Linked DNA regions of Homo sapiens: region 2 is linked to region 1. The links come from fine-mapping of genetic effects on gene expression. A gene starts in region 1. The other region holds a variant in brackets. All regions are shown on one strand. Distances are from middle to middle.

Evidence for each region. PIP is the estimated chance that this variant, and not a neighbour inherited with it, causes the effect. A credible set is the group of variants that fine-mapping cannot tell apart.
Region 2: its variant is the best candidate, but not a certain one, in a credible set for the expression of EXT2 in whole blood (INTERVAL, PIP 0.77).

The regions. Positions count from the first base shown.
Region 1 is chr11:44,093,885-44,096,879 of GRCh38, forward strand. It overlaps EXT2 (exostosin glycosyltransferase 2), which reads left to right and starts at 1,794. Exons shown (of 14, transcript NM_207122.2): 1 at 1,794-1,968. RefSeq lists a silencer at 1,661-2,280 and an enhancer at 2,701-2,750.
Region 2 is chr11:44,160,986-44,163,485 of GRCh38, forward strand. The region is part of intron 7 of EXT2 (exostosin glycosyltransferase 2); the gene reads left to right. Among named protein-coding and RNA genes, the nearest start is that of EXT2, 67 kb to the left of the region's middle. The variant A/G (reference allele first, on the strand shown) is at 1,037.

The DNA of each region.
Region 1 (2,995 bases):
TAGGCAAGTTTAAGGTTATAAAAAATGAAGAAGATAGGCAGCATTGTGTGAGGCTGTGCCTCACACAGTTCTTTAACACGGCAAATTCTCATTTTATAAAAGAACAAAGGATTAATTAAAAACATACATGTTTAAAATACAGATAAATATGGAGAAGAAAAAAAGAGGCCACAATCTTCCAGACCAGATAGCTATTGTTGACTTATTTCAAAAAGTGAAAACAATATTCCCTGGGATAAGATAAATTTGGATACAGTTCCAGTGGTGATTGTCACTGCTCTCCACCCATCCAGTTCTCAAATGGGGTGGGTGTGTGCTACATTTTGTATCATTTGCAGGGGGGATTTGATTTGGAAAGCAGAGCAATGCCCCCTTGGATGTGGGGAAGCAGAACATGAGTGTCCCATCCCCAGAATGTCCTCATCCCAATCTCCCTAGATCTGTGACAAGCAGGCATTAACTCACAAAAATATCCCTGGAATCGAGGTTGCTGCCGGAAGCCTCTGTAGGTATCTAGTCTCAGAATCATCACTTTGAATATTTAAGCTATCAGTGACAACTTCCACCAGATGGCGCCAAAGTACATCTGGGACCAGAAGGGATTTGGATCCTGTAGCCAGACCCACAACTCTACCAAACCAACATCGCAGGCCCAGGGGTCATTTCATTAACCTCTCAATAACATCGCTCTGAATTTTAATTTAATTTTTTAGTTTCCACTTACTGCTTTATGACAGCGGTTTTAGTGTGCATGGATAGGGCTAAATCATGTAAATAATAGAGAAAGATACAAAACAAAAATGCGTTTTTTTTTTTTTTTTTTGGAGACAGGGTCTTGCTCTATCACCCAGGCTGGAGTGCAGTGGCACGACCACGGCCCACTGCAGCCTTGACCTCCTGGGCTCAAGCAATCTTCCTGCCTCTGCCTCCTAAGTAGTTGGGACTACAAGCGTGTGCTACGATGCCTAGTTAACTTTTTATTTTTTGTAGAGATGGGGTCTTGCTCTGCTGCCCAGGCTGGTCTCAAACTCTTGGGCTCAAGCGATCCTCTCGTTTAGGCCTCCCCAAATGCTGGAATTACAGGCGTGAGCCACCTTTCCTCGCCATAAATGCTTCCATTTCCGCCTCGACAACTACTCCACCTGAAGCTGTTCATTTCTTCTTGCATTCCTTCCAGAAAAAAGTTATACACATGCCTGAATATAAGCACCTACTTTATATATTTCTCCCTCTTGTTTTTGCATATGCATAGTTTACCTAAAAGTGACTTGCCCGCTGTTTTGGACTACGCTTTGATCTTAACTAATATCTTGGAGATATTTCCTTACCCAAATATATTGCACTATCTCACATTACTCAAATCAATCAAATTCCATAATTTATTTCGATTGTGTCTAGCATTTCGCTATGATTAGAAAGAATGCTGTCATGGAACTTTTTGACAAACATTGTTGAGAATATCCATAGGGCAAACTCCGTACAGAGAGCTTGTTGGAATGAAGGGTACCAGCATTTTCCGTTTGATGGATAGTACCAAATTGCCCTCCAGGAATGTTATACGCTCACCAGAACTGATTATAATAAAACGTCTACATATTTGTTAGTTTTATAAGCAACGCGTGGTGTCTCGTTTGGGTTTAAGGATTCTTTAATTATGAATGAGGCTGTCTGAGCATTTCACTGCGGAGCCTGAGCGCGCCTGCCTGGGAAAACACTGCAGCGGTGCTCGGACTCCTCCTGTCCAGCAGGAGGCGCGGCCCGGCAGCTCCCGCATGCGCAGTGCGCTCGGTGTCAGACGGCCCGGATCCCGGTTACCGGCCCCTCGCTCGCTGCTCGCCAGCCCAGACTCGGCCCTGGCAGTGGCGGCTGGCGATTCGGACCGATCCGACCTGGGCGGAGGTGGCCCGCGCCCCGCGGCATGAGCCGGTGACCAAGCTCGGGGCCGAGCGGGAGGCAGCCGTGGCCGAGGTAAGCGCGGCTCTCCAGGGCGGCGGCCGGGCGGGCGCTGAAGCGAGGGCTCGGGCCTCCGGGGGCCGCTGCTGGGTCGGGACAAGGGCCGAGGGAGCGCGGCCGCGCGGAGGCTCCGTGGAGGCCCGTGGGCTGCGAGAGGCCACCCCCAGCCCCGCCGGGGCTGTGACAATGACTGCCCGCTTTTGGAGCGCTCCGATTTCCACTCCTGCTTCTCCTTCTCCTCCGGCGGCGGCCGCGCTTTCAGCATCTTGGTACCCACCTGTTCTCCTAGCCAACCTTCGCCCCCAGTCCGCTCCTTCCTTTCCTCCTGCGACCCGCCCTCCGCCCTCCGCCGTGACCCCTCCCTTCCTGCTGCCACCTTCCCGCCAGCCACAGGGATCTGATTCCTCCCAGGGGGATGTCCTGCGCCTCAGGGTCCGGTGGTGGCCTGCGGCATCCCTTGCGGTGCCAGAAGCCGTGGGACGAGGTAGGGAAGGGGCCAGGGGCATGTTATGCCGGGGACTGGGTGGTCGGGGGCGTGTTAGGCCGGGGACTGGGTGACCGGGAACTAGATGGCCGGGGGCGTGTTAGGCCGGGGACTGGGTGGCCGGGGTCATGTTGGGCCAGGCACTAGGTGGCTGGGGGCGTGTTAGGCAGGGGACTGGGTGGCCGGGGGCCTGTCAGGACGGGGCAGGAGTATGTTAGACTGCGGACTAGATTGCTGGTGGCATGTTAGGCCAGGGACTAGGTGGCCCGGGGGTGTGTCGGGCCGGGGCCAGGGGCATGTTAGTCTCGGGACTAGGTGGCCAGAAGCACACTGGCTCTGGGCTTCAACTTGAAGTCCAGAGGTGTTTGGGGCTTTGTTACATTCGGTGGGAACCAGATCTAAACACACAATTTTGAGAATCAAAGAATTGCTTGGTGTTACTGATTGGGCAATGCTAATCTAGAAAGGTTCTTGACTTATTTATGTGAAGATATGGTCTTGAAATATGTACATTTAAATTCTTGTAAGTCTTAACTTCTTGTAAGTCAGGTAAGTGCT
Region 2 (2,500 bases), 67 kb after region 1:
ATTTGTTTCATTTTCCACATTAAGTTGGATGCTTACTTTATTTTTGTATGATAATTTGGCATATACATCAAAATAAAATTAAAGTGTGGGACTAGAAGCAGTTGGAATTTTGGAAATATCTGAAGTCTCAGTAGATTTCATCTCTAAGATTTTAAATATAAAAAGTGGCTATATACTTTTAAATAGGTGAGATATGTTAGCAGGCTTCAACTTAACATTTAAGGCAAATGTCAGATTTTTTATTGCTGTGAACTTATTACTGAGGAAAGAAAACATTTAAATATTTTTCTCCAGCCACAAATCCCCATAAGTTTAAAGATTTTGACAGAATGCCATACTTTATGTATGTTAAAAAATTGTAAGCCAGGATCAATGGCATGCACCTCTAGCCACAGCTGCTCAGGAGGCCAAGACAGGAGGTTCACCTGAGCCTGGGAGTTTGAAGCTGTAGTGTGCAATGATCGTGCCTGTGAATAGCTACTATACTCCAGTCTGGGCAATGGAGCAAGACCCTGGCTCTTAAAAAAAAAAAAGTAATATTCAGTGAATACAATTTCATAGTTTTTAATCCTTTCAAAGTACATTAAAAATAGTGTGCTAAATTCTTTGATACTTCTTCCTCCAGGAGGTGAAGCTTCATTACTCTCCCTTTCAGTATGGACTGAACATAGTGACTTGCTTCTAGGGAGCATAGACTATGGGATGGGAACAGTAGTAATTTAGCAGTGGGAAAACCTGGCAGACCTCACCTTAACTATGTGAGCAAGGTTAACGTTACTTTTAATAAGTCATATTGGTAGCATATGTCCCCTGATGGAGTGTGAAGGGAAGGGTACATCATCTCTGTAGTATTCTCCAAAATCTATAACCTCAATCTAATAAGTAGAAAACATCGGATAAACCCAAATTGAGGGACATTCTATATGAAAGTCCTGACCAGTACTGTCAACTATGTCAATGTCATGAAAGACAAGGAAAGACTGAGAAACTGTCCCTGATTAGAGGAGACTGAGCTGACATGACAAGTAAATGCACT[A/G]TGGTGTCCTGGATTAGATCCTGGAACAGAAAAAGGACTTTAGGAGAAAACTGGGAATCTGGAGAAGAAAAAAAGTATGTTGTTTAGTTAATAGAATTGTACCAATGTTAACCTCTTGGTTTTGATAATTGTACCATGGTGATGTAAGATGTTAACATTAGGAGAAGCTGGATGAGGGGCATTCCAGATATTTGAGAACTCTCTGGCTACTATTGCAACTGTTCACTAAGTCTAAAAGTATTACAAAATAAAAAGTTATAAAAGCAATTACCAGCTGGGCTCAGTGGCTCATGCCTGTAATCCCAGGACTTTGGGGGGCCGAGGCAGGCAGGTCACCTGAGGTCAGGTGTTCAAGACCAGCCTGACCAACATGGCAAAACTGCATCTCTACTAAAAATACAAAAATTAGCCAGGCATGGTGGCAGACGTCTGTAATCCCAGCTACTCGGGAGGCTGAGGTAGGAGAATCGCTTGAACCCAGTAGGCTGAGGTTGCAGTGAGCCGAGATCGCACCACTGCCCTCCAGCCTGGGGGACAGGGTGAGACTCCATCTCAAAAAAAAAAAAAAAAAAAAAGCAGTTACCACTTTGCATAGCAAAGCAATAGACAAATACTGAAACCTACCAAAAACTTATAAAATGAATTCTGCTGCAGTTAGGTGAACCATTGTGTGTGGCTTTCTATAAACTTTCAGCAAGTGCCATATGGGTGGGTTCCTAAATTACTGTCTTTATGTAACTGATAGGTGAAGATGGTGGGGCTGGGAAAATGTACTGGATTAATAGAAACATGTTTCCAGGAGTTGCATGTGGAGAAGGCAAATAAAACAGCTTCATGAATAAGGAAGTGAAAAAAAGCCGTCTCATGTTTTATGCGGCAAGGTGTTTTACATACAACTAAATTAACAAAATAAATATTTTAAGTAAAGAAAATGATTAGTATGTGGATAAATCCCAGGTATATTAACCTTTTTGCTTCAAAATCCCTTTTTATGTTAAAGAAAGTAAGTTCTATTAATTGCTGTTTGTTGGATCCCCAAGTTAAAGGGATATCAGATATTTGTGAACTTCCTCTGCTCTTCTGGAGAAACTGGTAACATGGGCATAGTAAATGTCTTCAAAAACCTCCAGTCCACAAGAAGTGCCTTTAAAGGGTTTTGCTGATATTTTTTTCCCTCGAATTTTAAGTTAGTTGTCAGGTAACTCTTATATTTATGAAAATGGAGTATGTAAAAGAATAAACAAAAAAATCTTGCTTACAGTAATTCTAAACTAAAAGTAAGGATGCTTGGGTTATAATTTGGCCTTATTATTGAGCTTTTTGAGCTGTCAGATGAAGATTATTAGAGCCTATCTCTGGGACCTTCAGACTGTTATGAGGTTGTCCAAGAAGGACACCAGACTCCCTGCTCTTGTGCTGTCAAAAGGACCAGTGAGCACCAAAGAGCCTGTTGGACACAGGGCT